4 linked regions of the Homo sapiens genome follow. The protein of the gene in region 1 purifies or fractionates together with the protein of each later gene. This does not show direct contact. Each region holds a gene or a part of one and is shown in the gene's direction. Other genes may lie near its edges. The genes, in order: LRCH3, SUGT1, TMOD3 and VCPIP1.

The links.
Region 2: the proteins of LRCH3 (region 1) and SUGT1 purify together in Homo sapiens (co-immunoprecipitation; 4 studies listed by BioGRID and IntAct, with this or other methods). This does not show direct contact.
Region 3: the proteins of LRCH3 (region 1) and TMOD3 purify together in Homo sapiens (affinity purification with mass spectrometry; 2 studies listed by BioGRID and IntAct, with this or other methods). This does not show direct contact.
Region 4: the proteins of LRCH3 (region 1) and VCPIP1 purify together in Homo sapiens (co-immunoprecipitation; 3 studies listed by BioGRID and IntAct, with this or other methods). This does not show direct contact.

What each region holds. Positions count from the first base shown.
Region 1 is NC_000003.12:197,829,249-197,836,277, forward strand, and holds part of LRCH3 (DISP complex protein LRCH3), read left to right. Parts: intron 1-315; coding exon 316-425; intron 426-1,516; exon of another isoform or gene 1,517-1,521; coding exon 1,522-1,615; exon of another isoform or gene 1,616-1,649; intron 1,650-1,788; exon of another isoform or gene 1,789-1,975; intron 1,976-2,026; exon of another isoform or gene 2,027-2,106; intron 2,107-2,948; coding exon 2,949-3,069; intron 3,070-5,279; exon of another isoform or gene 5,280-5,377; intron 5,378-6,425; coding exon 6,426-6,574; intron 6,575-7,029. UniProt on the Homo sapiens protein: As part of the DISP complex, may regulate the association of septins with actin and thereby regulate the actin cytoskeleton.
Region 2 is NC_000013.11:52,655,824-52,662,852, forward strand, and holds part of SUGT1 (protein SGT1 homolog), read left to right. Parts: intron 1-1,708; coding exon 1,709-1,799; intron 1,800-2,275; exon of another isoform or gene 2,276-2,384; coding exon of another isoform or gene 2,385-2,403; intron 2,404-2,575; coding exon 2,576-2,645; intron 2,646-3,355; coding exon 3,356-3,426; intron 3,427-5,651; coding exon of another isoform or gene 5,652-5,747; intron 5,748-6,825; coding exon 6,826-6,879; intron 6,880-7,029. UniProt on the Homo sapiens protein: May play a role in ubiquitination and subsequent proteasomal degradation of target proteins.
Region 3 is NC_000015.10:51,909,644-51,916,245, forward strand, and holds the end of TMOD3 (tropomodulin-3), read left to right. Parts: 3' UTR 1-6,082; downstream 6,083-6,602. UniProt on the Homo sapiens protein: Blocks the elongation and depolymerization of the actin filaments at the pointed end. The Tmod/TM complex contributes to the formation of the short actin protofilament, which in turn defines the geometry of the membrane skeleton.
Region 4 is NC_000008.11:66,657,203-66,664,231, reverse strand, and holds part of VCPIP1 (deubiquitinating protein VCPIP1), read left to right. Parts: intron 1-7,029. UniProt on the Homo sapiens protein: Deubiquitinating enzyme involved in DNA repair and reassembly of the Golgi apparatus and the endoplasmic reticulum following mitosis. Necessary for VCP-mediated reassembly of Golgi stacks after mitosis.

The sequences.
Region 1 (7,029 bases):
GCTTTAAATCTCTGACTATGCAAACTAGTCAGTGTGATAAGTTTACTTGGTATTTGAACAGTATAATCAAAAGTTATTTATTTATATATTACTGAAATGTATTAGTGACTAGAAAATGAAAACATATTTACCAGTTAAACACCTAAAATAACACTTAACCAAATAATATAATTTATTAGTTTTTAAATATTACTGTATGTACTTGATAGAAATGCCTCCCTTTCCCAATGTATGTTACATAAAATGTTGATATGATAAAAAGGAGCATACTTCAGATGAGTAATAATTTGGCTACATCTGTGTGACTTTATTTAGATATGTATAAAAGGCAAAGTCCACATATTTAAATACCTGAACATACAAGCTTGTAAGATTGCTCCAGATCTGCCGGATTATGATAGGAGACCGTTGGGTTTTGGCTCCTGGTAAGTATATTCTGTCCCTTTATCTATCATATTTTTTGTACAGAGAATCAAATAAAATGGATACTTAAATTTGCCTGAATGTTTGACTAAAGGGAAATAACCTGTTTTAACACTGTTATTCTCAGAATGCTTGTATTGTAAAGTTGATTACCTAGATCTGGCAAAGTCTAGTTCTAAGGGTTTCTCAACCTTGGCACTGTTGACATTTTAGATCAGATAATTCTTTGTTGTGATGGGCTGTCCTGTACATTGTAAGACATTTACCAGCATCCTTGGTGTCTGCCCATTAGATAGATGCCAGTAGTACCCTCGCAAAGTCTCCAAATGTCACCTTGGGGCCCTCCAGTTGAAAACTACTGGTCTGAGTGACTTGAACGCTAACTTTAGCTCTGCTGCTGAGGTAACTAGCCGAAGGCAAGTCATTCCTACTTTTTGAGTTTCATTTTTTCTACAAGGAGTCAAGAGTTGGATTTGTTGACCATTAACATCACTTCAGGATCTTTTAATCTATGAGTCCCTCAGCTACACAGCCTGTGACTTATAAGGTCATCTGCTTGGCAGTCCCAACCATCTGGAACAATCTCTTTTTTTTGAAACAAGGTCTTACTATGTTGCCCAGCCTGGTCTCAAACTCCTGAGCTCAAGCATTCCTCCCACCTCAGCCTCCTGAGTATGGAGCAGTCTTAAGTAGCAAGAATTAAATTCTTAGGCCTTTAAACAAGCAGGATAGATGTTTCAGTCAAAGTGAAGTAATGTTTATGGACTTTACTCAAAAGAGAACCTCTCAGGCCTTCTCTTGAACCTCTCAAATTTTGCTTAAAAGCACAGTCCTAGTAAACTCGCCTCATTGGACGAACAAGAATTGCAGAGGTGTGATTGTTTTGAAGCTGGATAATAATGAGTACATGAGGTCTCATGCTATTCTGTTTGCTTTGTTTCTATTTGGAATTTTTCATATTAAAAAATTAAAGCCCATTTAGTTCTAATAGTTAAGTGACTGCCACATTTCTTGTTTTTTAGAAAATTGATCTGTTTAATTTCAAATTTTAATTGTTAAAATAACAAACTTTGCAGTAACAGAGTCTCTTTTCGGCAGCCATGAAGAACTGTACTCAAGTCGCCCTTATGGAGCCCTTGATTCAGGCTTCAATAGTGTGGACAGTGGTGATAAGAGATGGTCAGGGAATGAAGTAAGTGTTTTTTATGTTCCGTGTGTTATAACACCTGATTAAGAGAAAACAGAATGATGAAAATGAAAAGCGTCTTAACTGGATTCAGTTTCTCACTACATAAAATACAGAAAAGTCAAGGTGGAGGCAAGATTCCCACCCTCTCCAGCAGAATTGGCATTCTGCGTCCTTACCGGCTTTCTGTCACGTGGATTTCCGCCTGTTTCCTCATTGCCTCATGGAAATAGTTTCATATCATAGAAAGGCAAACAGGAGCTGAGCCAGTTGAAACTGAAGCCTACAATCTGAGGTGGGGGGTAATCTCGAGCAGAGGTGCTAGATGGTGAGAAAACAAGTAGGACTTTCGGCTGATGGGTAGAGACAAGGACCTTAGTAAAGAGTATTCATGTGCTCAAGAGGAATAACTTCCTGGCTAATTCTGTCGTTTTTCTCGTTTTTAAATTATTGATATTATGTTTTCTGCTCTTAAAAATTACTGTGTCCACAGAGGTCTACAGAAGAAAAAAAGTAAAAAAATAAATAAAAATTACTAATGTGTAATATTTTAGCTATGCATTAAGTTATTAAGTAAACTTTTGTTAGCAAGACTGATAACCTACTATTTATAACATTGTTTTACTGTGAATTGAAACCAAATTAATTTTAGACCACATCCCATTTGAAATTTGGAATTACTTGTGTTTGTATGTCTTGGTGGGTGGGTTCATAAATGTGGCTGTATCAATACAGATATATATGTAGATATTTTAAATCTATATATATATAATTTATGGAGTCATGAATCTTTTATATTTTTTGAGACAGAGTCTTGCTCTTTCACCCAGGCTGGAGTGCAGTGGCACGACCATGGCTCAAGCAGTCCTCCCACCTAAACCTCCTGAGTAGCTGGGACTACAGGCTTATGCCACCATGCCTGGCTAATTAAAAAAAATTTTTTTTTAGAGACATGCTCTCCCTATATTGCCCAGGCTAGTCTCAAACTCCTGGGCTTGTCATTCCCATCTTGGTCTCCCAAAGTGTTGGGATTATAGGCATCAGCCACCACTCCAGACCAGATTTTTATTTTTTTGAAATAGGATCTCGCTTTGTCGCACAGGCTGGAGTGCAGTGGTGGAATCCTGTCTCATTGCAGCCTCGAACTCCTGGGCTGAAGCGATCGTCTCGCCTCAACATCCCAAGTATTAGGATTACAGGCATGTGTGAGCACATCTAGCTAATTTACTCCTGGCCTCAAGTGATCCTCCTGCTTTGGTCTCCCAAAGCGCATGGATTACAGGCATGATCTGCCAGGCTCTAAAATGATTGTTTTTAATGTTTCTGCTTCTTTTTTAAGCCTACAGATGAATTTTCAGATCTGCCTCTTCGAGTAGCAGAGATTACTAAAGAACAAAGACTACGAAGAGAAAGCCAGTACCAAGAGAACCGCGGCAGTTTGGTAGTAACAAACGGCGGAGGTAAACATAATTCCGGTGACAGCTAAAGTGTTTGCAACCATTTAACTTTTTAAAGTTGTCTTTTTCATACCCACTCCTTTTGTTGGTGTATCTATAGCTTCTTCACTCTTCTTTTAAAGACTTCTTTTCATATATGATTGAAAAATACTATTTTCCATTGGGATGAAACTATGATTTCTGGTTTCAGTCAGAGTTAAAATACACTATTTCTCCCTTGTTTTTATTTTGGGAGGAAACTTTATTAGAGACAGTACACCTGGAGCAGATCTTTGTTAATCTGGATTTAATCACGACCTTTTGAAGTAACATTCTCCCTTTTTAAGATTCTTGCTGTGGTCATTATTTGATCTCTTTTAGGAATTTAGTCCTTTTTTTTTTTTTTTTCAGTGTTTACCTTTTCTTCACCTGGAATTGTCAGATGCTCTTCAAAGTCATCTGAATCACAGTTTTCCTTATTCTGACATTAAAAAATTTGTAGTTCATTAGCAAGCAGCACTCTCTCTACTTGCTTATACTTCCGAAGCAGACTCTTGATTTTCGCATTCAATTCTGTATTGCTTGAATTGGTTTGAATTTAATGTTTAATGTTTAATTTCATATTTAAATTTTGAGGGCCAGTTATAATGGAAAATAACTTTGATTTTCCAGAAACCTATTGCTTATCCGAGGAGAGCTTTCATTTCTCAGTGACGATTTCAATTAAATGGTTTGCTGTCCTTTTCCTTACCATCTTAGATTCTTTACTCCTGTCGTTACCATTTCATTTACATTTCAGTAGTTGTCTTTTAAGTGTTTCTCTCATATGAGGTATCTTTCTCCATCAGTTTATTTAAGACTTAAAATAATGTTGAGATCTGTGCCGGTATGATAGCCACTAGCCACATGTGATAATTATTGAGTATTTGAAATGTGTTTTTTTAGGCTGGGCGTGGTGGCTCACGCCTGTAATCCCAACACTTTGGGAGGTTGAGGCGGGTGGATCACTTGAGGTCAAGAGTTTGAGACCAGCCTGGCCAACATGGTGAAACCCCATCTCTACTAAAAACCGAAAAAAAAAAAAAAAAAAAAAAAAAAGCAGGGCATAGTGGCATATGCCTGTAATCCCAGCTACTCGGGAGGCTGAGGCAGGAGAATCACTTGAACTCGGGAGGTGGAGGTTGCAGTGAGCCAAGATCACGCCACTGCACTCCAGCCTGGGTGACAGAATGAGACTGTATCTCGAAAAAAAATCAGAAATGTGGTTTTTCCAAATTGATATGTATTGTAAGTATAAAATACACATCAGATTTTGAAGACTTCCTTTGAAAAAAAGCGTGTAAAATAGTAATATTTTGCATTGATTATATGTTGAAGTGATATTTAGACATATTAGACAATGTAAAATATTAAAGTTAATGCTGCCTCTTTTACTTTAAAAAATATGGCTACTAGAAAATTTCAAACGACATATGTGGTTCACCTTCATGGCTTGTGTTATTTTTCTCTTTGGCCACACTGGTCTAGATTGGATGAAGAAGTAAAGTTACTTTCTTCAGAAATCGTCTTAATATAAACCATTAATTTAGTCAGAAAAGTTTTAGCACATTTAAAAAATGCATTTATGTACCTGGTTTCTAATGTGGATGTAAACTTAGAACCTTTTCATCTTTTTTAGCTATTAATAAAACTCTAATAACTCAAAATTCAATTTTATATTAATTGTAGTCACAGAATTATTTGTCAATAATTGAGTCAGAAGACTAAATTGAGAAATAGGCTTCCCCAAGTTCACTGTTCCAGCAACTGCGATTTTTAGGCAGCCTGTAGAACGTCATGAAGTAACAGGTTGTGGTTTAATGCATCTCTGGAAAAACTATCTTAGTAGGAAGTTTTTTTTTCTAGTGTGCCATTTTAAGTAGTTGTTTCATTACTTTTAAACTTAAAAATAATGGGGGATTCCCAAACTTAGCAGATGAACAAGATGTGGCTAAAAATAATTTATATACGTCTCCTCACCCTAAAGCATTTTGAGAAGAAGAAACTCCTCAAATGAATCCCTTCCCATCCATAAACTATTATAAAATATCTACATTGCTGACCTCTAGCAGATAGTTTTCCAAATAGGACAATCTTTGTTCTGATCTTTTTTGTTTCTGCTTAATTGACAACAATTACAGGAAGGGAGATAGTAGTCAGAAACTCTTTCTTTCTCGAGTCCAGTTTACTCCTACCTTTTCTCTTTTTTGTGTGTGGCCTTTGACTTTCTCTTGAGTTGACTGTGTTCGGTTTTCCACCTGCCATCTCCTCACGGAGATATTAAGCCCCAGACCTAAAACACGAAAACACAAAGATGCACCTTTCAGTCTTTAAAAATTGGTCTTCGCTCTTTGTCTCACAAACTGAAACTACTGTGTTTAAAACAGTAAGGAGCTGTCCAAAGAAAAATGGTAGAGGTCTCTATTTCAATAATTATCATCAATTGCTACATTCTTTAGTGAACTAGGACTAAGGTTTTCTGGAGCCTATTTTTGTGAGTGGCCATGAACTAAATAATAAACACTTGTGTGCCAGGCACGTTGGCTGATGCCTGTAATCCCAGCACTTTGGGTGGCCACAGTGGGCGGATCGCTTGAGCCCAGGAGTTGGAGACCAGCCTGGCCAACATGGTGAAACCCCGTCTCTACTAAAAATACAAAAGTTAGCCGGGCGTGGTGGTGCACACCTGTAATCCCAGCTACTTGGGAGGCTGAGGCAGGAGAATCGCTTGAACGTGAGAAGCAGAGGTTGCAGTGAGCCAAGATTGCACCACTGCACTGCAGCCTGGATGACAAAGGGAGACCCTGTCTCAAAAAAACAAAACAAAATAAAATATAAGTAAAATTAATTTAATTTTTTTTTTGTTTTTGAGACGGAGTCTTGCTATGTCACCCAAGCTGGAGTGCAGTGGTACGGTCTTGGCTCACCGTAACTTCTGTCTCCCGGGTTCAAGCAATTCTCTTGTCTCAGCCTCCCGAGTAGCTGGGACTACAGGCGTGTGCCACTAAGCCCAGCTAATTTTTGTATTTTTAGTAGAGACGGGATTTCAGCATATTGGTCAGGCTTGCCTTGAACTCCTGACTTCAGGTGATCCACTCACCACCTCCACCTCCCAAAGTGCTGGGATTACAGGCGTGAGCCACCAACCTTGGACATAAAATGGGTAAAAAAAAAAAAAAAAAAAAAGACTTAAGTAATTTAAAGTTTTTATCATCCCTCCCACTTTCAAAATAGAAAATCATGGGGAAAAGGAAATAAGTAAATGTCTTTTATTGGCTATCTAATTTGAATGTTTTTTTCTGGTGTGTGTGTGTGTGTGGGTGTGTGTGTGGTGTATACAGTGGAACATGATCTGGATCAGATTGACTACATAGACAGCTGCACCGCAGAGGAAGAGGAGGCCGAGGTGAGACAGCCCAAGGGACCAGACCCAGACAGCCTTAGTTCACAGTTTATGGCGTATATTGAACAGCGGCGAATCTCTCATGAGGTAGTACACAGATTGAAGCCTAAATATGTTGCTATCCCTTCATAAAAATAATTCATAATAGTATAAAGTTTTGTTATATCAGTGATTTGTTGACTGAAGCCTAATTGTTTTCATTATGTTCACTTCTGATTTCAGTCCTGAGTTTTTCAGATTTATTCAGAAAACTCAGACAGCAGCCTCAAGTAGGCTTTAGGTTTATTTTTCAAACAAGAAGAAAGATTTCAGAATTTTGCAGGAGGAATAAAAGAAGTCTAGGTACTGTTAAGGCCTTGGAAGAAAGTACAAAGAAAAATACAGTGATGCTTTTCATTGTTGTTTTTATTGCTTTTTTATTGTTACTAACTGATAAATCATAGTTTGGTCAGTAGTTAATTAACAGTTAAACCAAAAAGTTGACTTTTGTGGCAACATGCAGACTTAACCATAGAATTTTTATAATATGCTGAATTATATTG
Region 2 (7,029 bases), on another chromosome or scaffold:
ATATGCTGATGTTGCCCAGGACCACTGTCTAGGCTCAAGATAGACTTGAGTCATCAGCATGCATCAACACATATGTGAAGCCCCCCAGTAGTTAAGGAATCAAAGAATGTTTGTAGAGGGGAAGAAGTCTTAAGTACTGAGCCCAAGGAGAACATTAGTTTTTAAGAGGCAGCAGAATGGTAAGCTGAAAGGCCTGGTTATTATTGTCAAGGGCCACAGAGAGATCAAGTCAGATAGGAATCAGTTGGATTTTATAAGGGGTTATTAGTGACTTTGAGAAGATTAAGACTAGAGAGGCAAATATTTTTGTATTCTATGGCAAAGGAGATGCAGTCAAAGTAGAGACTGGGGAAAAGGCTGAAAAAAGTCTGCAAGAAGAAAAATCAATACTTTTCATTGAGTGATTACTGGATGTCACATACAGATCTAGGCAAGCCCAACACCCTGGAGTCATCTTCAGTTTCTCTTATCCCACATGTTCACCCATTAGCAAGTCTCTCTGCTTCTAATATGTTCCAACTTAATCGTATTTCTTTTCATCACCTCTGTGGCTAACATCCTTTTCTAGCCTAGACTTAATGTAATAGTTTCCTAAGAAGTCTCCGTTTCCAGTCTTGATTTGATAATGTATTTACCATACTGCAGCCAGAATGACATTAAAAAAAAGTAAATTGGACCATGTTCCCCTTACTAACAGTGAACTTTCCATGGCTTTCCATCAAACGTAAGGTCCAAATTCCTTATAACTGCCTGCAAGCTACAAAGTGAGGCCCTTAAAGTAGCATCTTACAGCTTCTTTGCTCTCTTGATTTGAGCCTTACTTTCTGTTGATTGACTGTAACCCCATGTGAGTTGAGGAGCATCTGTATATGTTGCTTTCTGAGAGTCACACTACTAGGTTAAAGCAAAGTCAATGATACATGTGGCTCTTGAAATAATTTTACCATTTAAGAAAACTACCAAATCCCTAGAGTTTGTAGGCAGTTGGCAGAAAATAAAAGTGTTCCTGCACTTGTCTTTGATCTCCCTAATTGTGTAATCTCTTACATCATTATTTTTCCAGCTACCACACCTATATGTTGTGACTGCACAAGTTAAAAAAGTTTCAATCTCTAATGTTAACTCTTGGTAGTTGACATAGCCATCTATTAGATTGTATCTGGGCTTTGAACAGAATATTTAGTTGGGTTTTATTAGAGTTGTGTGCTATTGTTAGAGGCTAGGAGAGGGCCAGGTACACTTGATTGTGTATGTATTGATTGTCTTAACCTCCCTGAGTGCTAGATTTAACTTCTGGTCTTTTTTTATTGCACAGCTTAACATTTTCTAGGAATCTCAAATTCTATATGGTGTTTGAATCTTCTTCAAATTAGTAGGAGGAAATCTGTAATGGTCAATGTGTAACAATTAAACTCTTCAGAATATATGAGCTGATAATAATGATCATTTATTAAGTTCTATAGACCAGGAACTAAAAGCTTTACGGTACAGAGATGCTACATTAGATTGCCTACTTTTGGGAGGAGGGGCAAGAGAAGTGGGGGAGATATTGATCCTTTTATAAGGAAAAACTCCAATATTATATCCGTGTTATCTTTCCTCCAAATAGCTTCTGACAATAAGTTACTTGATTAAAAATTATGTTTTAATTAGAATTTGATGGCTTCTTACAAACTTTTACTGACGCTCCACATGTTTGTTTTTGTAGGAGCTGACTAAGGCTTTGGAACAGAAACCAGATGATGCACAGTATTATTGTCAAAGAGCTTATTGTCACATTCTTCTTGGGAATTACTGTGGTAACGTTTCTTATAAAGTATATTGCCCCCTTTTAATAAGTTACTTATACATTTTACCCATGACAAATTAAAAGTTGTCTTTGAGAATTTTTAAATTGGTCTTTTATACAAGGTAAAGTAGCTCAAATGTGACAGACATGTTGAGCAACACCCATTTAAATTTTATGGATGTCGCTTTTTCCTTCATTGGGTGGAGAATGTATACAGATTTCATTCATAGTTATTGGGTATGCTGATAAAAAATAGCATCACATTTACTATTTGACAGACTATTAAAATGAAATGCTCGTTTAAATTTTTTTTATAAAAAAGAATGTGGCCAGGCATGGTGGCTCACGCCTGTAATCCCAACACTTTGGGAGACCAAAGCAGGAGGATCATTTGAGCCCAGGAGTTCAAGACCAGCCTGGGCAACATAACAAGACCACCTGTATTTAAAAAGTAATGTATTTCTGTATTTTGTACCTTCTGAATAGGGAAAAACTGAATACCTTGAGTAAAATTACATAGAAAATGTTAATGAGACAAGGAGGTGAATTTTGTGACACAGCTGTATTCATTGAAGAGCTTTAAGAAGGAAGCTAAATGTTAAGCCAAAAGGAAGGTACAAGAGTAATATTTATTTGAATTCTATCTTGTATTAGCTTTTCCTAATTTAAAACCATTTGGCATTTCTACCAACTTGAAAACTTAGAAATCTAAAACTGATTCATATGTTGTGTGTATTTGCTAGGATCTATAAATAACTGACTAAAAACCCGTCTTTTTCTACACAGTTGCTGTTGCTGATGCAAAGAAGTCTCTAGAACTCAATCCAAATAATTCCACTGCTATGCTGAGAAAAGGGTATGCAGTAGCTACTCTTCTTGTTGAGCTTGGTATAGATAGTAGGTATTTAATTTGTTGAATGAGTTCATTGCAAGCTTTATATAAGTTGTAAAATTCTGTATTTATACATTATATAGCAGAGATATGATTCAATTTTAAATACAACTTATAGTTCTATTATTTTGTTAACCAAAGTATGTGATAGGAGATCTGTACTTAGTAAATTTTAAAATAGTGATGATTGAAGTATTTGCAAGGTATAGATGAAACTGATAGATTTCACATTGCTTTTTTTTTTTTTTTTTTCAATCTTTTGGAATTTACTATATTTAATTGACTGGACAACATCCTATTCAGCAAAGCTGAATAGGCTACATTTAATGCTATGAAAGCGCTATATCTGTATACTTTATATCCCATCTTGTTTCTGTTGATAAGTATAACTATTCTTTAAGAAACTTCTTTAATTCCTTTGTATAATTATATTTTTGAGTAAGCAAGTCTGTACAATTAAAGTCAGATTCCTTCTGAAGTGAGTTCTAAAATTGAATTTTAGTAGGAATTGTACTAGATCTTAACAGTATATTAGAAAGTCTCTAGGTTTATTAACATACACTTAAAATAAATTTTTTCTTTCAACAGTAGAAAATACTAAGTTTTTTATTTAGAAAGAAGGTATTTTCCAGATTTTTTGTGTGTCTTAATTTGTTTTAAATATATTCATGCAGAATATGTGAATACCATGAAAAAAACTATGCTGCTGCCCTAGAAACTTTTACAGAAGGACAAAAATTAGATAGTAAGTATTAAAAATTATACTTTAATAAACTTATCTATTTCTGTCTTAAATACCAAAGCTGAATTTTGGTAATGTTAATTTCAAGTTAATTGTAGAAACCCAATACCTGTTTTTCTCATCTAAATTATATTTCATATTGATTGCAGATATGAGATCACTTAAAATCGATTAAATTAGCCTTTTGGCATTTAAATCATAGATGAACTTCACCATTAGAAGTAAAAAAAACTATGGAAACACCTAACATGCTCTCTCTGTTTAGTCTGGCTTTGTTTTTTTCTAATGGAGAAGTGAAAGTTTAATTTGCCTTGGTCAGAAGTCTGTTCATTTTAAATTATTCAGATTGCTGAGATGTGAAATCTTAACATTAAAGGTTTTTATGGAGAAGTGAAGTGTACGTTTGGGTAAATTATGAGAGGGTACAGAAGAAACACAGTTTTGAGAGTATTGTGACTTTTAATGTTATATTCTTGAGGGAATATATGAAAAGTATCACAGTGGTGTGGATATCTAGACATATAGAAATTGTGAGAGTCAAGAATATATATATATATATATATATATATTTTTTTTTTTTTTTTTTTTTTTTTTTTTTTTGAGACGGAGTCTCACTCTGTCGCCCAGGCTGGAGTGCAGTGGCGCGATCTCGACTCACTGCAAGCTCTGCCTCCCGGGTTCACGCCATTCTTCTGCCTCAGCCCCCCGAGTAGCTGGGACTACAGGCGACCACCACCACGCCCGGCCAATTTTTTTGTATTTTTAGTAGAGATGGGGTTTCACCATGTTAGCCAGGATGGTCTCAATCTCCTGACCTTGTGATCCACCCTCCTCGGCCTCCCAAAGTGCTGGGATTACAGGCATGAGCCACTGCACCCAGCCGAGAGCCAAGAATTTTTAAATCTGAAAAATACTAAGAGGTTGTGAGTAATTTCAGAAAATTGGAGACTACATAATCCTACTTGTATTATCATTTTATCTTTATGTTATGATAGAGTTTTATCACAGTTCTCTAAAGAAGTGGTTCTTAACTGGAAACGGTTTTGCTTCCCAGGAAACTTTATGCAATGTCTGAAGAGATTTTTGATAATCATGAATGGTGGATGGGGGTTGTGCTACTGACATCTAATGAGTATAAACCAGGGGTGCTACTAAATATTCTATAATGCCCAGGACAGTTCTGCCTAACAAAGAAGTATATGGTCCAAAATGTCAGTAGTGCTGAAATTAAGAAACTTCACTCTTAGTATTTTATGTTACATTCTTACTCTGTACTGTTTTGAATGTTTGCCTTTCTGTTGTGTACCTATTCAGAAAAAAGGATTTTAGCACTGATTATGCAAATGGAAGCTACAAATTAAAAAAGGAGAGGTCTGGGTGATAAGGCTTATTCTCAAACTTGCTTATCCCAGTTTTGGTATGTGAATAGTAGGCCTATTCAGTCAGCAAACAGGACATCTGCACTCTTAGCAAATTCTAGAGTGAAGTTATGTAGTGCCTTGGTACCTAATGTGAAAATCCTGAAGAAACATGAGTCATACCATTCTCTACATTTTCATTTTTCTTTCTTTTTTTAGCGAGAGAAGGTCTCGCTCTGTCGCCCAGGCTGGAGTGCAGTGGTGCGATCTTGGGTCACTGCAGCCTCCACCTCTTGGGCTCAAGTGATCCTCCCACCTCAGCCTCCTGAGTAACTGGGGCTACAGGCACATGCCACCACACCTGACTAATTTTTGCATTTTATTTTTTGCAGAGATGGGGATTTGCCATGTTGCCCAGGCTGGTCTTGAACTCCTGGACTCAAGCGTTCTGCCTGCCTCGGCCTCTGAAAGTGCTGGGGTTACAGGCATGAGCCACTGCGTCTGGCCCCTAGATTATTTTCTTGAGTAATATCTTAATATCATGCCATTGACATTTATTCTTTAGTTATTTCAGAGGTGGCCTTCAGAGGAAGACCTGTTTGGTAAAATTGCTGTTGAGGATATTTTACTTAAAAATAAATTTGTCTTTAAATCCAGGAAACTTTTTTTGTTGTTGTTTTTTGGGGTTTTTTTTTGTTTTTGTTTGTTTGTTTGTTTGTTTCTTTTTTTGAGACTGAGTCTCACTGTGTTGTCCAGGCCATAGTGCAGTTCTCTGTCTCTCAAGTTCAGGTGATTCTCCTGCCTCAACCTCCTGAGCAGCTGGGACTACAGGCATGCACCACCAAGCCTGGCTAATTTTTGTATTTTTAGTAGAGACGGGGTTTCATCGTGTTGGCCAGGCTGGTCTCCAACTCTTGACCTCAAGTGATCCACCTGCCTTGGACTCCCAAAGTGCTGGGATTACAGGTATGAGCCACCATGCCCGGCCAAAATCTGGGAAAAAGTTAAGTTAAACTTTTAGGCTTCTATTTTTATCAGACAGGGTAAAGAATTGTTACCTTTTCCCCTCTTTGTGTGATAAATTGCTTGGTTTTAGTTACTGATTACTTAAAATAATAGGTTACTCAAATCTTTTTGATATAATAGATTTTGATACAATAGTTCTCTAGAATACAGTGTGTGTGAGAGTGTATTTAAATTTTTTATTAATGCTGGTATAGTTGGATTTCTTTTATAAATTAGTAAAGTAGAAATTTTTGTTAAGAAATTTTTAATTTAAGATTTTCAAATTTATCTTGTCTGCAGTTAACTTGAATTAATAAGCTCTTATTTAGAGTACTTTTAATACTTTTAACATATCTTACTATGCACTGTGACTGTTTAAATGTAATCATTGTTCTGTGTCTCCAGAAGTGAATAATTTGTTTATGCATACATTTACACTGTTATCTATAAATATATAATACATCACCTATAGCCTCTCGACTGCCATGTAACTTGGAGATAGGACAAAACTTCACGGAATTTAAAGATGCTTGGTGTTGGTAGGAAAGGCATGGTAACAGATAAAGCCACTGAGAGAATAGTGGACTGAATAGGTATCTGCATTGAAGAGCAAGCTGGGGCTGGGAACGGCTTTTGAACCTCAACTCAGCTCCCAGTTACCAAGCCTCCTCCCCACCCTAACTGATGGCATATTGGGAGTCTGATTTACATCTGATTTTGTTCTGTGTGTGAGGAAGCTTCTCTAAGAGCAGCGGGATTGGGGGAAATGCAGATTATTTGTATCTGTGAAATTAAGGTTGACTGTAGTTAAAATTTTTAAAAAATCAAAATGTTTCATGATTAACAACTAAATGTTAAACTATTGGTATATTTATAACTATAGTAGAGTTGGTGATAAGGTCTGTTAAGACAGGTTTTGTTCGCTGCCGACTCCCCAGTGCCTAGAACACTGCCTGGGATGTAGTAGGTATTCAGTAAGTATTTGTTGATTTATAGGTTGTGCAGATGAGTGATGTTATAGTCAGTTTTTTCTTTCTAGGTGCAGATGCTAATTTCAGTGTCTGGATTAAAAGGTGTCAAGAAGCTCAGAATGGTATGTGGGTCTCCCTTGGTATTTGTTTCAATTTAAAAAGAAGTAAACATCTGAAATTTTTTTGGTTTAAACAAATTTGTTTTTATCTTTATAATTTCTTTTAAATAGTATACGTTTCCTTAGATGTGGACTTCCAAAGATACACTGGTT
Region 3 (6,602 bases), on another chromosome or scaffold:
AGAGAAAAAAGAAAACTGTTAAACAATGAAATCAAAGATAATAAATATGATAGATTTCCAGTATGAGGCACTTGCAAAACAGTCATTTAAACTGATGGTTACTGTAAGTCAGTTGGAAGCTGGCATGTATGTAAATTACTTGGTGTTACACCATATCCGAAGAAGTTCCTATGTGCAGTGCAGAATTGCATAAACAGTATTTAATCACTGCTACAAATCTTCCAACCAAGAAGGAAAACTGCTATTCTTCATAAATCTAATTTTTAGTATATGCTTCCTTTCATCTTATACTTTTATCAATATTTATAAAAGTCATTTCTATAATAAAAGCAGTCTTTCTTGCTCAAAGTATTAAGGTGAACAATTGAATAGAGTACTGTGGTCGGGAGACTGATTTGAGACTGCAGAGCTGATGCTGGGTAGAGGGTCTGGACTTGTATTCATGTTCTGTCTCAGGGCAGCCCCTGGAGCAGGAGATGGCAGAGGCATTTACAGCTGCAGAAAACAGGGAGGAATGGAATCTGAGGTAGCCCTGGCCTCAAAATTCAGGCCTGGCTGTATCATTTACAGAGATTTTTCTGGAGGGAAAAGTCTCATTTCTGAGGAAGGCAAGGTGGCTAATCATTATTAATTTTTTTTAAACTTTTTGGGCCGGGCGCAGTGGCTCACGCCTGTAATCCCAGCACTTTTGGGAAGCCAAAGTGGGTGGATCACTTAAGGTCAGGAGTTCAAGACCAGCCTGGCCAACATGGTGAAACCCTGTCTCTACTAAAAATCAAAAAAGTAGCCGGGTGTGGTGGTGCACACCTGTAATCCCAGCTACTCAGGAGGCTGAGGCAGGAGAATTGCTTGAACCTGGGAGATGGAGATTGCAGTGAGCTGAGATCGTACCACTGCACTGCAGTCTGGGTGACAAAGCAAGACTCTGTCTCAAAAAACAAACAAACAAACAAACTTTTTGAAATTGAATTGCAATATGTCTGCTACTTTGGCTTGGGCTGGACAGTTTATCTAATAAGCAAGGCAGCTTCTTGTGTGCTATGGTAATAAGCCTTCTTAACAGGCTAAGCTTCCCTCATAAGAACTGTGGTGTTTCTCTTTTTTTTTTTTTGTTTTGGTTTGTTTTGGTTTTTTGGTTTTGTTTTGTTTTGTTTTTTAAATCAGTATCCAATGTTTTATAGGGGCCAAAGGTTAACTTTGCACTATTCCCTGTCAGTTAAAGGCCACTGATATTTTTCTAAGTTAGCAAGGCTCACTTGCTTGCTTTCTTGCCTCCCTTGCCTCCATCCCTCTCCCTTCCTACCTTCTCTATTTACCTATTTCTCTCCCTCCCTCTCTTCTCCTCTCTTTTTTTTTCCCCGCATATGCAGCTTTTTGATTGTACTTGATTTTATAGAGACTGCACAGTTCCAGCAAGATTGGGAGTCAGGCATGGAGCAGGCATCTCAGGCTACCAGAAAGAATTGGTCACCTAGACTTTCAGTCAGGCATCCTCGTTTGCATTGTCCTGTAAGTCAATTAGTTGATAAATAGTTCCCCCTTCATCCCTTAAGTTTTGTTTTTGTTTTTGTTTTTAATATAGGTAAGTGGGACTCTACCTAAAATTTTGCATCATACTTATGGGTAATATCTTTTTCATATATTATTTATCAAAGTATGAAGTTGAGTATTTTGCTTGTACCATTTCAATTCTGCATTATAGTAGTTCATTGTATAACTGAAAGAAATGATTTCTTCATAAGTGACATTAAATATGAACATTCATCCAATTGAATTTACAAAATCTTTCCAAAATTATAAGGGAGAAAAATCGGGTTTACTTCAATCTTTAAAAATCTGGCACCTCTTAGTAACTTTCAGTATTTCTAAATTGCTCTAAAATTTTATAATAAATAGATTAGGGTTTTGCAATAGTCTTAATTTTTAAGCCAAAGGTTTTCTGAGACCTTAGGTTTTGTAGTCTAACCAGCTTATGTGGTTATTTAAAAGAATATTCTTTGTGTTTTTAAATTGCTATTTTTAAAAAAGCTTTTTATTACCCATTTTATAAAATGTTATACTCATATTTGTCTGAATTTTTCCAGTATTCCTACATGAAATTGTATGTATTAAAAACTCAATATTAGTGGCAAATATTAATACTATTAAAATGGATTTTGGTGCTATATTCTTGTAGCTAAAGCCTAGTAGAATTCTCAAGAATAGGTGAAATACACTTTCAAAGTTGCCTGTCATTTAAAAGACCAAATAAGCATTTTGTATTAAATAAATTAGCAGATGGTTAGAGACTTCAAGGAGAGTTAGCTTGGTCATTTAATTGCGACTTCATGTTATTTGATTGAAATAACCCACATCCTTGCTTTGTATAAGATATTCGCTCTGGAGAAGTTACATGTAAATAGAATTCTATAAATTGTTTTCCAGTTGACCGAGTATCTGTTGTGTTTTTGTTTAAAAAGAGGATTCCATGACATAATAAAAATTATTTTAAAAAATGTTTTGGGCCGGGTGCGGTGGCTCACGCCTGTAATCCTAGCACTTTGGGAGGCCGAGGTGGGCGGATCACCTGAGGTCAGGAGTTCGAGACCAGCCTGACCAACATGGAGAAACCCTGTCTCTACTAAAAATACAAAATTAGCCAGGCGTGGTGGCACACACCTGTGATCTCAGCTACTCGGGAGGCTGAGGCAGGAGAATCACTAGAACTCGGGAGGCGGAGGTTGCAGTTAGCTGAGGTCGCGCCATTGCACTCCAGCATGGGCAACAAGAGTGAAACTCCGTCTCAAAAAAAAAAAAATTTTTTTTTTTTTATAAAATGTTACTCATATCATATTGTACGTTATATTTAACTCTTGCTGTCATTAAAATAAGATGACAACATTTATGAAGTTTTATAAAATCTTACATTTTAGGGTCTGTGTTCCCAGGGCTGCCTCACTTTTTCCCTAAAAAACTAGGAACCACTGTTAACCTCCCAGCAGATGCAAGGATCATGCTTTCTCTGGAGTCCTTAGTCACTTCCATTCTTTGCAAGTTTAGTACTGCCCAAATTTACTCATTCTACAGTGTTACTGCACTTTGAACGTATTGACCCATGTCACCCAAGAGAAGCAAACATATGGATGCACTAGAGACAACTCGGGTTGCTGCTCTCAGTTAAGGGCTATGAGTTCTTGGGGTCTAAGTATCTGTAAAATTATCCTCTCCATCAGCTCTCACTGATCATTAATGTTTCTGGATATTTCTTACCCTAAGATTTGCTTACCAACAAATCAAAGAAACGCTTCACTAATTATTTTTAAATTGAGAAAATAGTATTCAGAGGCAAAGATTTTTATATTCTTTTTTGAGACCAAGTCTCACTCTGTCATCCAGGCTGGAGTGCAGTGGTGCGATCTCAGCTCACTGCAGCTTCCACCTCCCAGATTCAAGTGATTCTCCTGCCTCAGCCTCCCAAGTAGCTGGGATTACAGGCGTCCGCCACCACGCCCGGATAACTTTTTGTATTTTTAATAGAGACGGGGTTTCACCATGTTGGCCGGGCTGTTCTCAAAGTGACCTCAGGTGATCCACTCGCCTCGGCCTCCCAAAGTGCTGGGATTACAGGCTTGAGCCACCACACTCAGCCTTATTCTTATATTTTAATTTGGTCATTCTTAGATCTACAGATTGAACATCCCTAATTGAAAACTTTTTGAGTACTAACATAGTGTTCAAAGGAAATGCTTATTGGAGCATTTAGAATTTCAGATTTTCAGATTAGGGATGCTGAACTGGTGTAATGCCCAGTATTCCAAAATCCAAAATAATTTGAAATCTGAAACACTTAATGGTCCCAGCATGTTGGATAAGGGATACTCAACCTGTATTGATTTTTCTCCACTATAATTCAGTTCTATAAGTTCTTCCCTATAAAAAATGAATGAATTAGAAATTTGATAATAAAACATATTTTATTAATTTTAAACTCTATCTTGCAGTCTGATCATTCAGAAAGGTCAACCTAGAAAAAAGACATGGCTAAGTAAACTATTTTAAGCCATAACTAAGTATTTTGGAAAGCCTTCATTAACACATAAAGAATTTTGGCCAAGTACTGTGGCTTATGCCTGTAATCCTAGCACTTTGGAAAGCCGAGGCCGACGGATCACTTGAGCTCAGGAGTTTGAGACCAACCTGCGTAACATGGTGAAACCCCATATCTACAAAAAGTACAAAAATTAGCTGGGTGCGGTGGCGCATGCCTGTAGTCCCATCTACTCGGAAGACTGAGGCAGCAGAACCGCTTGAGCCTAGGAGGTGGAGGTTGCAGTAAGATGAGATCATGCTGCTGTACTCTAGCCTGGGCAATGAGAGTGAAACTCTTATCTCAAAAAAAAAAAAAAAAAAAGAGCTATACTCATAGTACTTTGGGAGACCAAGCAGGGAGGATTACTTGAGACCAGGAGTTTGAGACTACCATGGACAACATAGCAAGACCCCATCTTTACAAAAAATTTAAAAATTAGCCAGACACCTATAGTACCAGCTACTTAGGAGTCTAAAGTGGGAGAATTGCTTGAGCCTGGGAGGTTGAAGCAGCAGTGAGCTTTGATCATGCCACTGCATTCCAGCCTGGGTAACAAGAGTGAGACTGTCTCAAAAAACAAAACAAAACAAAAAAATGGGTTTTTTTGTTGTTGTTTTTGTCTTTTACTTAGGACACCTGCTCTAGAGGCTAGATAAAAATAGATTGTAATGGCCGGGTGCAGTGGCTCACACTTGTAATCCCAGCACTGTGGAGGCTGAGGTGGGCGGATCACTTGAGGTCAGGAGTACGAGACCAGTCTGGCCAACATGGTGAAACCCCATCTCTACTAAAAATACAAAAAATTAGTTGGGCGTGGTGATGCGCACCTGTAATTCTAGCTACTTGGGAGCCTAAGGCAGGAGAATCACTTGAACCTGGGAGGCAGAAGTTGCAGTGAGCCGAGATTGTGCCATTGCACTCCAGCCTGGGTGACAGAGTGAGACTCCATCTCAAAAAAATATATGTATTAAGAAATACCACCAGCAGTGTTTTGCTAACATAGCTGTAACAAATTATTAAGTTCTTTTTTTTTTTTAAGATGGAGGTTCACTCTTGTCGCCCAGGCTGGAGCGCAATGGTGCGATCTCAGCTCACTGCAACCTCCGCCTCCTGGGTTCAGATGATTTTCCTGCCTCAGCCTCCTGGGTAGCTGGGACTACAGGTGCCCGCCACCACGCCTGACTAATTTTTGTATTTTCAGTAGAGACGGAGTTTCACCATCTTGGCCAGGCTGGTCTCGAACTCCTGACCTCGTAATCCACCCGCCTCGGCCTCCCAAAGTGCTGGGATTACAGGTGTTTGCCACCGCGCCCAGCCCAAATTATTACATTCGTAAGACAGACACCTCTTAGAATCTATATATATGAGGTTTTACTCCCTTTTCTACACTCAGTATGTTTTAATTGATGCAAAGCAATTAATTGGCCTAAAATGTTTCAAATATTATAGTCTATACATTCAGAAAGTAAGGTTTAAGAATGAATTATTGGTGCTTCTTGGTGGGTGTATATAGCAGTTTTTAGAAGTTTAAATTTCACCTCTACTCAGAAAGATAAGCTTTTGATTCAGTGGTTTCAAATTTTCAGATCAATCCATTTAAGAATTGTTTTTTCAAATGTATATACACGTATAACATAAAAATTTTTGTAATTTCAAATGTCTTTTTTTCAGTTTTTTGGATGAATTATTATATTTGGTTTTAGTTACATTTAAAAGCTTGAAAATTACCTTTCTAACAATCATTTGAATGTCATTCATTGTCACATGAAATCAGGTATTTACGTTTTTTTCTAATGCTAAAATATCCAACATTGTAATTGCCCTATTTTTCCATTTTTATAAGTATAAAAGCAATGAATTTTAACACTGGTATTTAAATAATACAAAATATTATCCAAATTCATAACAGCACAGTGAAGTTTCTTTTGAAGACTATGTACTGGAAGCATTTAGAACTTACCAATATATACTGGGATAAATCGTTTCAATAAAGTTTATCAAATATTCTGTAAACTTGGACTTTTTGAAAAAGCACATAATCCCTTTAGTTCCTAAGTTCTAAAATTCATTCCTTACATCCTTCTTCAAGAAAAAGTTTATCAGTTTCCCTGAGTTATTCAGTCCTACCTGTTATGGACTGAATGTTTGTATCCACACCCGCCCCCCCACCCCAAATTCACATGTTGAAGCCCTAACCTCCAATGTGATGGTATTTGGAGATGGGGCCTTTGGAAGGTAATTAAGGCTAGATAGGGTCACAAGGTTGGTCCCCTTATGATGGCATTTGTGTTCTTATACAAAGAGACAGGAGACTCTCTCCATCATGTGAAGATACAGCAAAACAGCAGCTGTCTGCAAGCCAGGAAGGGAACCCTCACCAGGAACCAAACCATGATCTCGGACGTCCCAGCCTCTAGGAACGTAAGCAATAAATTTCTGTTATTTAAGCCACCCAGTCTATGGTATCTTGTTAGGACAATCTGACCTGGCTAAATACCACCATATTAAGTTGAATCATATAAAATTAGTTATA
Region 4 (7,029 bases), on another chromosome or scaffold:
CTGATGGTATATCTTAATTGTAAATATAATACACTGAGTTTTCCTGTTATCTTTGGGGGAAAAGAAATCTGTAGCCATTGTAAGTTTTTAATTATATATTTCAGGAGAGAATTATTTTTAGTATTTTGAACAGTTGATAGATGTTAATAGGATTATTGAGTAACTATTAGGAAAATAGAAAGTTAAGGTAGTCCCTCAATAATAGTCAACAGATTATTTAAATATATCTTATTCTTGCAATTGCTTTTTAAAAAACAGACTTGTATTTATTTAAAGCGTTTTAAATTTTTTGGTAGGCTCTATTGATCCTGCCTACCTTGCCCCTTTTTCATTTATTTTTAATTTTTATTTTCCTGTATGTCATGTGATTTCAGCACTTCCTGTTTGATGAATTGCAGTTTCTGGTGTTTATATTCTCACTGCACTCCCACCTAGTAGTCTCTTACATTTCATTTTCTTCCTTTCCCAGTTCATCACATTTTTCTTTCTCATACACTAGGATTTGTATGTAAGTACACTAGGATTTGTATTTAAGTAATTTCACTACTCAAGTCTTTGCCATCAATTATAATGAACTGTTATAAGTTGTAGTTCATGAGAAACATAAACAGAGATGGATGGTAATGGTGTAAAGAAGTATTTGTTTTTAATCAGCATAAATTAAAGAAAAATATATTAACCAAATGTGTAATTTAAAGCTTTAGATGATTTGGGATACTGTTCAATGGTGTACTTTTTACAGTGTCTATATTTGCTTAGTCTTTGTTTTGAAATAACTTAGTATGCTTTACTAAGTCTTAAAGTATGAAGTAAAATTTAAATGTGTTAGTTACTGGAAGGGTTTTATTTTTGCTGAGATTAAAGCTTTCAACGAGAAAAGTCATCTGGGTTTTGATTCTGTTTTCTGATAGTACTATATGGCAGTGATTTGGGCCTTAATCTATCAAAATGAATACTACTCCTGGCTTATCTGGGGGAGTAGTAAATAGGGGATCTAAAAACCCTGCACAAATTTAGAACCCGGAATTGTTGATTTTAGTTTGCCAGACATAGTAATTGAATTGGGGAGTATGTCAGGAACTGTCCTACGCACTTTATATATTTCTTTTTTTTTTTTCTTTTTTTTTTGAGATGGAGTCTTGCTCTGTCTCCAGGCTGGAGTGCAGTGGCGCCATCTCGGCTCACTGCAAACTCCACCTCCCGGGTTCAAGCAATTCTCCTGCCTCAGCCTCCCAAGTAGCTGGGACTACAGGCCCACGCCTCCATGCCCAGCTAATTTTTGTATTTTTAGTAGAGACGGGGTTTCAACTTGTTGACCAGGATGGTCCTGATCTCCTGACCTTGTGATCAAGGTCACTTAAATACGAATGCTAGTGTACTTAAATACAAATCCTAGGTGGCCTGTGACTGTAATCCCAGATACTCTGGAGGCTGAGGCAGGAGAATCGCTTCAACCCCGGAGTTGGAGGTTGCGGTGAGCCTAGATCGCGCCACGGCACTCCAGCCTGGCGACAGAGCGAGACTCTGTCTCAAAAAATAAATAAATAAATGAATAAGTAAATAAATAAAAGACCTTCAATCTCCCAGGTCAAAAACAGGAAAGAGAAGATCTTCCTCAATAGAAGATGGACTCTTGAGAATGTGGCTCTTACCTTTATCCTTGTATGCACAGAACCTGATAATAGTGCTCAGCAGGTAGTATGCACTCTGAAATGTTTTTTAATTGAATTAAATAGATGACATTAACACAGCTAAAGAAAGGCTGTATCTGCAGAAATGGAATGGATGGTCAGTCAGCACTGAACATTGAAAAAAGTGAAAAGCAGAATTCGGCAATGTTCATATACTGCTGTACAAAGGAAAAAGGTACATCATCTGGGGTTCATGAAAATTCTGGTAACTAGAAAGGTAATCTCTGTCGAGGGGTAGGAATATTTGAACAATCCTGACTGTGGCCTGGCTGAAACATCTCTATCCCTTTGCCTGATTTCCATGTTCATCAGGCATCTATTCGTAACACTTATTTAGCTTCCTGATAACAAGTTTTGATGTACAGGTGACAGTGCAGATAAGGACGTGTTCACTTTGAAAGCTGTATTCTCCATTGTAGACTAATAAACGGACATGGGCAGGATTATGATCAGTAGTCTTAAAAATATGATCAGAGCCAGTCACGGTGGCTCATGCCTGTAATCCCAGCACTTTGGGAGGCTGAGGCGGGCAGATCACGAGGTCAGGAGTTCGAGACCATCCTGGCTAAGATGGTGAAACCCTGTTTCTACTAAAAATACAAAAAAAAAATAAGCCGGGTGTGGTGGCAGGAGCCTGTAGTCCCAGCTTGTCAGGAGGCTGAGGCAGGAGAATCTTGTGAACCGGGGAGGCAGAGGTTGCAGTGAGCCGAGATCGTGCCACTGCACTCCATCCTGGGCGACAGAACAAGACTGTATCTCAAAAAAAAAAAAAAAATCTGATCGGTATGATTATATATAGATTTTTGAGACAGAGTCTCACTCTGTCGCCCAGGCTGGAATGCAGTGGCGCGATCTCAGCTCATTGCAACCTCTGCTACCTGGGTTCAAATGATTCTCCTGCCTCAGCCTCCTGAGTAGCTGGGATTACAGGCATGTGCCACCACACCTGGCTAATTTTTTTGTATTTTTAGTAGAGACAGGGTTTCACCGTGTTAGCTGGGATGGTCTCAATCTTCTGATCTCATGAACCGCCCGCCTCGGCCTCCCAAAGTGCTGGGATTACAGGCGTGAGTCACTGTGCCTGGTTGATAATATATTTCATAATGAAAATTAATCAAATATAATTCTGGTGTATAAATACTTTCTGAGTTTGGTTGGAGGTTCTTGGACCTGAATATCTGAGAGAACCTAGAGTATGGACTGCAATGAGTTCACCAAGATAATGTCTTTCTATTCTGATCCCTTCCCTCTTCATATCCAGCATTTATGCCTGTATAAACCCACAAATTTCTTTAAAACTTCTTCCACTACCAACACAAAATTTGGGTGTAAAAGAGAGCATTGTGTTACTTTTGTAATGATATCACTTGAGATACTTTCTGCTTTAAATTGAAGTATTAAGTGCATAGCCTGTATTATATTAGTCCCTTATAAATCTTAGTTTTCTTCCTCTAGTTCGCTTATGACTGTATTTGAATTATGTAGAAGATTTTTTTTTTGAGACAGAGTCTCGCAGTGTCGCCAGGCTGGAGTGCAGTGGTGCGATCTCGGCTCACTGCAACCTCTGCCTCCTGGGTTCAAGCAATTGTCGTGCCTCAGCCTCCCAAGTAGCTGGGATTACAAGCACGTGCCACCACACCCAGCTAATTTTTGTATTTTAATAGAGAGAGAGTTTCTCCATGTTGGTCAGGCTGGTCTTGAACTCCCGACCTCAGGGGATCCGCCCTCCTCGGCCTCCCAAAGTGCTGGGATTACAGGCATGAGCCACTGCGCCTGGCCGAAGATATTCTTAATTTAAAAAAAAAGATGTTCCTACAAAATTCAGTTTGGGGATAAATACTAACCATATGTAAAGAGTACTGGGGAACTGTTGATGTTTAGATTGGAGAGGACTAGAAAATGACAGAGCTTGTTTAGAAGATTACAGATTTCAAAGTGCAGAAATTACTTTGTGAATTACCAAATGTGAGCTAAGCTGTGTTATGTTAGTTTAGAATATAGCTCATCAGACTTTATGCTGTTCAAATAGCTGGTTCTTTCTCGTTTAAGTTTAGGCTTAAATACCACCACCCTGTAAGGGTTTGAGAAAACTTTGCTGACCATTCTAAGTAGGTTCCCTCTATCAGTGTACCCTGTTGATGTCCCTCACGGCATCTATCACAATTTTTAATAATCTTATTTGTTGGTTTAATTATTTGTTTGCCTCCCCCACTATATTATAAAGTCCATCAAGACAGAGACTGAACCCTATTTTCTTCACTAATCAATACCTTATTTCCTAGTTCAGGGCCTGGCACATAGTAGGTACCAAGTAAATGCTTGTTGGATTAATGAATGCAATTATTTCAGCAAAATCAGTGTATACTATGAACTTGTATGTATGTTGAGTGTACAAAGATAAATGAAAGTCAGTGCTTGCCCTCCATTAACTTACCTGCAGGCTTTCAGCTGAAGGAGTTCCATACTTTTTAGCTTTCATCAGCAGATCTCCAGCTTTATTTTCTAAATACATAAAAATTATAAAATCCCCAAATAGGACCAACACAGCATTTTAGAACTTCTCATTTGATTAAGAATCAAATATATACATGGGGATTGTATATTTTCTTTCTTTTTTTTTTCTGGAGACAGATTGTCGCCCAGCCTGGAGTGCAGTGGTGTGATCCCAGCTCACTGCAACCTCTGCTTCCTGGGTCCAAGTGATTCTCAACCTCTCAAGTAGCTGGGACTACAGGTGCGCACCACCACGCCCAGCTAATTTTTTGTATTTTTAGTAGAGATGGGGTTTCGCCACGTTGCCCATGCTGGTCTCGAACTCCTGAGCTCAGACAATCCACCGCCTCGGCTTCCCAAAGTGCTAGGATTACAGGCGTGAGCCACTGCACCCGGCCTGTATGTTTTCACTAAATGGGCTGACTGCATGATAGCCAGGGACATGAGCTTTTTCTTTCATTTTTAAGTAGGATATTCATTGATTAGATCGTCTATTACTTATATTAATAAAACAATAAGTAGGTGTATTAGTCTTTGGCTTAGTACAAGTCATTCATGGAACCTAGTAACTTTGAATCTTAGGAACTATAAAATGGAATAACAATATTTTACCCATAATATTTTACATTTTTAATCTCTTTTATCCAGACCACAAAGTAATTGAACTTAATTTTTTGCAGACAGTCATCTTCATTATTTATATAATACTTAAAAGACTAACTCTGGCTTTGCAAAATATGTCATTCAGATTTCTTGTAGACCTGGTGCGGTTGCAGTGAGCCAAGATTGCGCCACTGCACTCCAGTCTGGGCAACAGAGCAACACTCTTTCCAAAAAAAAAAAAAAAATTTCTTGTAGATCAGTTATTTGTAGGTTTTCTTTCATGGTAGACAGGATAGGTGGTACATTATCCACCATAAATATTTGGGCTAATTTATTTTTTCTTAGTGTTATATTTCATTAAGTTTCTAGTTTTGTTTGTTTTTTTGTTTTCCTAGAGGTAAGGACAGATTTAGGTGAAGAACAGAATTTGTCAGTTTGGAGTTACTTAAATGAAATTAGGCTACATGACACTTCCTTGCTTTACTACAAAGTGTACCAACCTTTCAGGAGTTGAGAAACTTGTTTCATTTTGATATACTTTCTCTGTTCCTGAAAGAATTGTGTGGCTTTTTAACGTATATATATATTTAAAATACACAATATTTTGTAATTTCATAATACCTCTTGATGTCGTAAATGCCTTAGAATTTTCCAGAATCGGCTGGGTGCGGTGGCTCACGCATTTAATCCAGCATTTTGGGAGGCTGAGGCGGGTGGATCATGAGGTCAGGAGTTTGAGACCAGGCTGGCCAAGATGGTGAAACCCCGTCTCTACTAAAAATACAAAAATTAGCCGGGCATGATGGCGCTCGCCTGTAATCCCAGCTACTCAGGAGGTTGAGGCAGGAGAATCACTTGAACCCAGGAGGCGGAGGTTGTAGTGAGCCAAGATCATGCCATTGCACTCCAGCCTGGTGACAGAGTGAGACTCTGTCTCAAAAAAAGAAAAAAAGAATTTTCCAGAATCACGCTTGGGACTGAGACACTTATTTTTTAGGTGACAACTGAATATTATTATTGCACCTTTTTTTTTTTCAAATGTTGGGTAAAGGGCAGTTTCAAATCTAGATAGTACTTATGCATATTCTTCTTTTTTTTTTTTTTTTTCCCCAAGATGGAGCCTTGCTCTGTCGCTCAGGCTGGAGTGCAGTGGTGCAATCTCGGCTCACTGCAACCTCTGCCTCCCAGTTTCAAGCGATTCTCCTGCCTCAGCCTCCCGAGTAGCTGGAATTACAGGCGCCTGCCACAACACCTGGCTAATTTTTGTATTTTTAGTAGAGACGGGGTTTCACCATGTTGGCTGGGCTGGTCTCGAACTCCTGACCTCGTGATCCGCCCACCTGGGCCTCCCAAAGTGCTGGGATTACAGGCGTGAGCCACCGTGTCTGGCTGCATATTATTATTCTTTCTATGCCTTCTGATAGCCCTTCTGTTGATTTATATGTAGCATACTTGTAATGGGAGAGCAGTTATAAAGTTGAATAAAAAATAATGCATAGGTGTATCTTAAGATAAATGTATATATTGTAAATGGTGATTTTATATAATTATACTTTGAAAATTAAGTCAAATATTGATGTTATTCCTTTCTAGATAGAAAAGGAAATCTAGATAATAATAGATTCTGTTCCAACTACTTTGATCACTTTTATTTTAAATATTTTTTCAATTACAATATAATGTTTAAAATTCAAATAATTCAAGTACCTATAAAATATGGTAGTTCTTAACATTTGTACTCCCCAGATAAAATCATTATTAATAAATTGGGATGTGTCCTTTCAGACTCTGTACACATTTAAACACTGTTGAGTTTGTGTGCATGTCTGTGTATGATAAAAATATTCATTAATGCTGCTGGTGACACTAAAGTTGTGTGACTATATACCGTTAAGGGGACTGAATTTCAGGCAAGAAACAGATATGCCTTTTTTATAAACCATTTTGACTATCAATAGGGTAGATAAACTTTTAAACGTGAGGATTACGTCAGGAAGGGTAGAGAGATGCCAACAATTCTTTCAGCAAATGAATACCTTTACCTTTGGAATTCTGTCTAGTTGAAACAGTCCTGTGTTCCTACTTTATATTTGGAACCATTTATTCAAATTATTAAAAAATTTTGAATTGTTTCTTTAAATTTTAAATTTAAATAAACAAGTACTTCATTTTATGGTCATAAATAGTTGAGTTCAGAGTTCGTTTTGGGTGTTTCTTTTGGGGCTTTAAAAATACATTTTGG